3 separate regions of the Homo sapiens genome follow, and all the other regions are linked to region 1. Evidence: fine-mapped expression QTL. A gene starts in region 1. Each other region holds a variant in brackets. All regions are shown on one strand. Distances are from middle to middle. Region 1 holds the start of VBP1 (VHL binding protein 1). Region 2 has its middle 63 kb from the start of BRCC3. Region 3 has its middle 34 kb from the start of VBP1.

Evidence for each region. PIP is the estimated chance that this variant, and not a neighbour inherited with it, causes the effect. A credible set is the group of variants that fine-mapping cannot tell apart.
Region 2: its variant is the best candidate, but not a certain one, in a credible set for the expression of VBP1 in whole blood (GTEx, PIP 0.53).
Region 3: its variant is the best candidate, but not a certain one, in a credible set for the expression of VBP1 in whole blood (TOPMed, PIP 0.80).

The regions. Positions count from the first base shown.
Region 1 is chrX:155,215,070-155,217,838 of GRCh38, reverse strand. It overlaps VBP1 (VHL binding protein 1), which reads right to left and starts at 1,379. Exons shown (of 6, transcript NM_003372.7): 1 at 1,264-1,379. The coding sequence starts at 1,356. RefSeq lists a silencer at 996-1,085 and enhancers at 1,256-1,335, 1,333-1,627, 938-1,726.
Region 2 is chrX:155,133,606-155,136,374 of GRCh38, reverse strand. No RefSeq gene overlaps it. Among named protein-coding and RNA genes, the nearest start is that of BRCC3, 63 kb to the right of the region's middle. The variant G/A (reference allele first, on the strand shown) is at 1,353.
Region 3 is chrX:155,181,222-155,183,990 of GRCh38, reverse strand. No RefSeq gene overlaps it. Among named protein-coding and RNA genes, the nearest start is that of VBP1, 34 kb to the left of the region's middle. The variant T/C (reference allele first, on the strand shown) is at 1,111.

The DNA of each region.
Region 1 (2,769 bases):
TCACTTACATCCTGTGTGGCCTGGGGCAAGTTACTCAAGTGCCCCGTACCTCAGTTTTATCATCTAAAAAACGGGCATAACAGTAGTAGCTACCACCTCGAGTTTTGTAAAATCATTAAGAAAGTGCCTGGCACTCAACAAATTTTATTCCTTGTTATGGTTAGATAATAGATCAATGTAGAGAAATAAATGACACAGCTCATAAAAACACAAAATAATAACCAATTACGAAATTCAATCAGCAAATGCGAATATACAATATCAAGTGTGGTATAAATAAATGAGTCTTTAGAAGGATATAAGACGTAGTTAGTAAAAAAAAGGCAGAGGTAAGGTAAGGTACAAACCAAAAGATTGAGAAACTTCCATGAAGATTTTATAGTAGCTAAGTGGGGACAGACAGATGACCTGGCCTGGAGGGCCAGTCAGATGTTTTCTCTCATTAGTCAAATAGTTTTCAACTACTATTTCTAAATTAAATAAATAAAATAAAATTTTTAAAAAGCCACCCAGCACAGGCAGCGCCCTCCAGAACGGCCTGTGGAGCAACCCGATCCCCTCTAGGACACTAGCGAACCTGGGACCTAGCGCCATCAGGAGGGTTCAGCCTCCTCTCTCAACAATTCATTCTCCACTAAGTTGTTAGAATGATGTAGTTAAAACGAAAGGCCTTCTGATGACAGCCCGTTGCCTACTGGAAAACCTCAATTCCTTAGCAAGACACAGAAGGACTTTACACTCCCAACCTATCATCCTATTTTCCCATCGGTCTCTTCTTCCATTTCCCGAGGCAACATTCCCGAGACCACTGCATTCCTTCAACAGACAAAGTGATATTCCCGGTTTTCACATCTTAGCACTGGCTGTTCTGCCTATTCATTGTACTGTGTCTCCAGCATCCATGCTGAGTCGAGAGCTCCTCACCACCTCCCCTTTTCCAACCAGCAGGGGGACGAAAACCGGCGGCAGCCCGGAGGTCCCTCAGGCCGCCCTGCCCTGCCACCCGCCGCCCCTCGCCCCTCGCCCCTCGTCCCGGCCCCGCACCCCGTTCTCTTCTACGGCCTTCTCGAGCTACGTTTCTTCCGGGCGGGCCCCCAGCAGAGCTCAATCTGTCCAGGTGCGAGGGGTGAGAGCAGACCGAGCGCCCCCTCCCTGAACACTTGGCTCAGCTCCTTCCAACAGTCGAGGCCTGGGTGGGAGCCGGGAAGAAAGGGGCAGTCCAAGGCCTCAAGCCAAGATGCCAGGGAACAGCGTGCCTCTTACCACAAACACGGCCTCAGGAATCCCCAGGTGGAGCCGCCGCCCATTCCCTGTGGCCATTTCTCCTTTGCCACAACTGTCCTTAACGGCCGCCATCTTGGGGATGCGAGCGCGCGACTGCCTCCCGGGCCGCCGGCCGCCGGGATTCCGTGATTGGCTTGTTCGCACTTGCAGGCCCGCCTCTCCATCTCCATGCACATTCATTGGTGCGCAGGGAGCGTCCCCCACAAGTCCCCGTTCTCCTTTGGCCGAAAGTAGCCCAACCTCTAGGTGCTGATTGGCTGCGCTCAGGTAAGTGACAAGCGTGGAAGGGCCGCGAAAGAGAAGCTGGAGCGACAGGAAAAACCCATACGTCCTCCTGGGAAAAGGGGTCTTGTGAGTGAGCGGTGCTAAAGCCCTAGGAATAGGGACCTAGCCTGACCCCACCCCGACCCTAGAACTGGCAGCAGCCTTCGCAATGGCCTCTGGAGCGACCCAATCCCCTCTCTCGGATGCTAGCGAACCTGGGACCTAGCGCCATCACGAGGGTTCAGCCTCTGTGCCTTTCTGGTCTCACCATCCCAGGGAGCTTCCTGCCCCTTGAAGGGAACTTACTTTGTGTCTGTTTCAGAGTGGTCACTGGCCTCATTCTAATAAATACCCTGCCTGTCGCACCAGCCTTTCCTGAAAGCCACCTTTGATCAGAATGTCTTCTCTCCAGCTCAAACGTTTCCAAAACTTCATAGTCTACATACAAAATCCTAAGAACTCCACCTAGGCTTCTAGGCCCATGGACTTACCCAATGTCATCCTACACTACAACCCTTTAAAAGCACATGTGTCATACAGAACCAAGTAATTATTCTTCGGGCTCTTTTCTGTGCTTTATTTCACTGGAGTGTTTCCCAGTGAGGCAGTGCTTCATCCACTTGCACAAATTCTACCATGAGCCTAAGAATTACGCAATGGAAAGTAAGTCTCTCTTCTCAGAGGCAATCACTGTTACCGGTTTATCTCCGCACATAATGTACGATCAAGCATATAGACATAGATATGTCTTTAGATATAATATGAGGAAGAAATTGGTATCGTCATATTGTGAATGAGGAAACTAAAGCTCAGTGAACCTGTACAGCTCCTCCAAAATCCTACAACTACATAGTAGTGAAGCCGGAATTCCAAACTAGTTCTCCAGTGGCTTCTATGCGATTTGGCTTGGGAGGATGAAGACATGTTAGCTAACCATGACTCTGACCTTTTCTGGTCAGCAGTTTTGTAAGATAATGTCTCTGTTCCTGGAGAGAAAAGTATATGGGAATTCTATTCTTCACCACTCTCCCCCACCTCAGTGCCTTCCAAAAAAAAATTTTGTTTTTGAAAAGTAGGTAACGTTTCTACAGAAAAACATTGAGATATCAGATACACATGCAAATTTTGTTCAACTTCACTGATCCCTATCTATATTAATCATTGTTAGAACCAATCAAGGACTTACTTCAAACTTTAGGAAATATTTCTCCAAATTATCAC
Region 2 (2,769 bases), 81 kb after region 1:
TTGTGTTGATCTCAAAGAACCAACTTTTGGTTCCATGGGATTTCTCTATTTTCTGTTTCTATTTCATGAACTTATGCTTTTTATTATTTCCTTTCTTCTACTTGCTTTGGGTTTATTTTGCTCTTTATTTTCTGGTTTCTTAAGGTAGAAGGCTAGGTTTCCGACTTGATGTATTGCTTCTTTTATAATATAGACATTTACTGCTAAATACTGCTTTTGTTGTCTAAACACCTTTTTCTGACTTTGGTCTTTTAAAATTTGAGATTTATTTTATGGCACAGAATATGGTCTATCAAGGTAAATGTTCTTTTTTTGTTTTTTGAGACGGAGTCTCGCTTTGTCGCCCTGGCTGGAGTGCAGTGGCGGGATCTCCGCTCACTGCAAGCTCCGCCTCCCGGGTTCACGCCATTCTCCTGCCTCAGCCTCCCCAGTAGCTGGGACTACAGGTGCCCGCCACCATGCCTCACTAATTTTCTGTATCTTTATTAGAGATAGGGTTACACTGTGTTAGCCAGGATGGTCTCGATCTCCTGACCTCGTGATCCGCCCGCCTCGGCCTCCCAAAGTGCTGGCATTACAGACGTGAGCCACCGCGCCCAGCCATAAATGTTCTTTGTAAACTTGAAAAGATGTATATTCTTCTATTATTGAGTGGAGTGTTCCAATTAAATGTGTATTACACTCAGTGATTTTGTTGTTGTTGTTTTGTTAGTGAGAGAGGGTTCTGCTCTGTCGCCCAGCCAGGCTGGAGTGCAATGGTGCAATCTCGGTTCACTGCAACCTCTGCCTCCTGGGCTCAAGCCATCCTCCCACCTCAGCCTCCTGAGTAGCTGGGACTACAGCCATGTGCCACCACACCCAGCTAATTTTTGTATGTTTTGTAGAGATGGGGGGTTTTGCCATGTTGTCCAGGCTAGTCTCAAACTCCTAAGCTCAAGTGATCTGCCCGCCTGGGCCTCCCAAAGTGCTGGCATTACAGGCGTGAGCCACCACGTCTGGCCACTTCTTGATGATCGTATCACAGTTCACCAAAGCTCTGTTCATTTCCATTTTTTAAGAGCCTTCCTCCTACCCTATGCTTCAGTTTGGAGATTTTCTTTTGTTATGCCTTCAAATTCACGGATCTTTTCTTCTGCAGAGTCTGATTTGCTGTTAATCCCATCTAGAACATGTTGCGTTTCTAATATTGCATGTTTCATCTCTAGAAGTTCCATTTGGTTCTTTTTATATTATTCAACATAATGAGAGTAATGAAAGATTTTAAAAGAATGAACATTCTCCTTTAAACCCTTGTGGATATTATAATAGTTATAATGGTTATTTTTAAATATTTGCTAATTCCATCATCTTGG[G/A]CATTTCTTGGCCTGTTCCTATTGACTTATTTTTGTCTCGTGTATGGGTCACATTTTTCTGCTTCTTCCTATACCTAGTAATTGCTGATTGGATGCCAGATACTGTTCATTTTGCTTTGTTGAGTGTTGTATGTTCATGTATTCCTTTAAGGAATGTTGAAGTTTGTTTAGACATGCACACACATTACTTTTAAATCACATCTTTCTAAGGCATATTTTCTTAAATGGCTTTATTGATATTTAATTCACATATATCTTCGTTATGAGAAAAGCCTGGCACTGTAACATTCCCTCAAACTGGGCCCCCCAAACTGGGAAGGAGCCAAGGTACCAAAGAAGTCCATCTTAGGAGTTTATTAGGACTTACATACAGGGCACTCCTGGGCAGCAGCAGGACAACTCCAGAGATCTGCCCTGCCTCCCATCTCTAAGCTGCTTTTAAGCTAATTTCCTGGCTCTTTGCCTACTGTGTGCAATGAGACTGTTTGCTGTAGTGGGTTCCCAGATCCATTCCAGGATGTTTGGGTTCTCAAGGACACCTGCTCCTAGGCTGGGCACCATGGCCTTGGCTCACCGCCAAGCCTTGAAGTTTCAAGCCGTGGACATACACTCTTAAGTAACATGGTGGGGGGCCCACCACACTACAACTTTTCCCTCATTTCGTGTAAAATTCAGTAGTTTTTAGTATATTCATAGAGTTGTGCAACTATCACCAAGATCAATCTACAGCCTTTCCACCACTTGCAAAAGAAACCCCGTACCCATTTGTTTTGACAACCCCCAGCTAAATTGGGTTTCCAGTACCAGAGCAGCTAGCAACCCTGCCCAAACTCTGCAGCTTTGAAGAGCTCATTTATTAGCTCTAATAGGTTTTGTGTGTGTGTGTGCATGCATTCTTTAGGGTTCTCCCTATATAATATCAAGCCATTTGCAAATAGATACAGTTTTACATCTCCTTTCCAATTTGGGTGTCTTCCCCTGCCCTCAACTGCCCTGGCTAGAATCTCTAGTACAATATTAAAGTGGCAGGAAACAGCATCCTTGTCTTGATTCTGATCTTATGCAGAAATAATTCAGTCTTTCACCATTAAGTATGATATTAGCTGTGGGTTATTCATATATGGCCTTTATCAGGTTGGGGAAGTTCCTTCCTCTTTGTAGTTTGTTGAGTCTTTTTCTCATGAAAACGTGTTGGCTTATGTCAAATGCTTATCCTGCACCTGTTGAGATGATCATGCAGTTTTAGTCCTTTACTCATTTAATCTGGTGTATTATATCGATTGATTCTTGTATGTTGAACTGTCCATGCACTCTTAGGAAAATTGTCACATGGTAATGGGGCCTCATTCTTTTTATATGTTGCTGGATTAGGTTTCCTAGGATTTTGTTGAGGAATTTTACATCTATATTCATAAAG
Region 3 (2,769 bases), 34 kb after region 1:
AAGAACATTCCATGCTCATGGATAGGAAGGATCAATATCATGAAAATGGCCATACTGCCCAAGGTAATTTATAGATTCAATGCCATCCCCATCAAGCTACCAATGACTTTCTCCACATAATTGGAAAAAACTACTTCAAAGTTCATATGGAACCAAAAAAGAGCCCGCATTGCCAAGTCAATCCTAAGCCAAAAGAACAAAGCTGGAGGCATCACGCTACCTGACTTCAAACTATACTACAAGGCTACAGTAACCAAAACAGCATGGTACTGGTACCAAAACAGAGAAATAGACCAATGGAACAGAACCGAGCCCTCAGAAGTAATACCACACATCTACAACCATCTGATCTTTGACAAACCTGACAAAAACAAGAAATGGGGAAATATTCCCTATTTAATAAATGGTGCTGGGAAAACTGGCTAGCCACATGGAGAAAGCTGAAACTGGATCCCTTCCTTACACCTTATACAAAAATCAATTCAAGATGGATTAAAGATTTAAATGTTAGACCTAAAACCATAAAAACCCTAGAAGAAAACCTAGGCAATACCATTCAGGACATAAGTATGGACAAGGACTTCATGTCTAAAATACCAAAAGCAATGGCAACAAAAGCCAAAATTGACAAATGGGATCTAATTAAACTAAAGAGCTTCTGCACGGCAAAAGAAATTACTATCAGAATGAACAGGCAACCTACGGAATGGGAGAAAATTTTTGTAATCTACCTATCTGACAAAGGGCTAATATCCAGAATCTACAAAGAGCTTAAACAAATTTACAAGAAAAAATCAAACAACCCCATCAAAAAGTGGACAAAGGATATGAACAGACACTTCTCAAAAGAAGACATTTATGCAGCCAACAGACACATGAAAAACTGCTCATCATCACTGGCCATCAGAGAAATGCAAATCAAAACCACAATGAGATACCATCTCACACCACTTACAATGGCGATCATTAAAAAGTCAGGAAACAACAGGTGCTGGAGAGGATGTGGAGAAATAGGAACACTTTTACACTGTTGGTGGGACTGTAAACTAGTTCAACCATTGTGGAAGACAGTGTGGCGATTCCTCAAGGATCTAGAACTAGAAATACCAT[T/C]TGACCCAGCCATCCCATTACTGGGTATATACCCAAAGGACTATAAATCATGCTGCTGTAAAGACACATGCACATGTATGTTTACTGCGGCATTATTCACAATAGCAAAGACTTGGAACCAACCCAAATGCCCATCAATGATAGACTGGATTCAGAAAATGTGGTACATATACACCATGGAATACTATGCTGCCATAAAAAAGGATGAGTTCATGTCCTTTGTAGGGACACAGATGAAGCTGGAAACCATCATTCTCAGCAAACTATTGCAAGGACAGAAAACCAAACACCACATGTTCTCGCTCATAGGTAGGAACTGAACAATGAGAACACTTGGACACAGGAAGGGGACCATCACACACCGGGGCCTGTCGTGGGGTGGGGGGAGCAGGGAGGGTTAGCATTAGGAGATACATCTAATGTAAATGATGAGTGAATGGGTGCAGCACACCAATATGGCACATACATACATATGTAACAAACCTGCATGTTGTGCACACGTACCCTAAAACTTAAAGTACAAAAAAAAAAGAATAATTTGGGCCCTTACCTCATACCAGGGACAAAAGTTAACTAAAAATTAATCAAAGACCTAACCTTAAGAACTAAAACTATAAAAATCTTCTAAGAAAAGAAAGGGGAAAACTTTGATGACACTGGATTTGGCAATGAATTCTTGGATTTGAGACCAAAAGTATAGGCAACAAAAGGAAAAATAGATAAATTGGAGTTTATCAAAATTAAAAACCTTTGTATAATCAAAGGACACTTTTAAGAGAGTCAAAAGGTAACTCATAAAATAAAAGAAAATATTTGCTAATTATATATCTGATATAGGGTTAATATCCAAAATATATAAAGAACTTCTGCAAGTCAACAACACCAAAGCAACCACATTAAAAAATGACCAAAGGATTTGAACAAAAGTTTCTTCAAAGAAGACATACAAATGGCAAGTAATCACATGAAAAGATGCTCATCATTAATCATTAGGGCAATTCAAATTAAAACCACAATGAGATACCACTTCACACCCATTAGTATGGCTATTGTTATGGACTGAATATTCCTGTCCACTCCCCCAAATTCATATGTTGAAATCCTAACGCCTAATGTGATTACCATCACATTAATAGTTGATGGTAATAGGTAATAGGTAATAGGTGATGGGGCCTTTGGGAGGTAATTAGGTTATGACAGTGGGACCCTCATGAGTGGAATATAAAGGACCACAGAGAGCACTCTTGCTCTCTTTCTGCCACGTGATGGGTACGGCAAGAAGTCTGGAAACCAAGAAGAGGACCTTCACCAGGCAATAAATCTACTAGTGCCTTAATATTGGATTTTCTAGCCTCTAGACCTGTGAGAAATAAATTTTTCTTGTTTAAGCCACCTAGTCTATGGCAACTTATTATACCAGCTCAAACTGACTAAGATAGCTGTCATCAAAATCACCCACTCCCAAAAAACACAGAATATAACAAGTATTGAGGATGTGGAGAAATTTGAACTTTCATATGTTGCTGGTGGAAATGTAAAATGGTACAGTTGCTGTAATAAATGGTATGGTGGCTCCTCAAAAAATTAAATATGAAATTACCAGATGATCCAGCAATTCCACCTCAGGATATAGAATCAAAAGAATTGAAAGATTCAAAC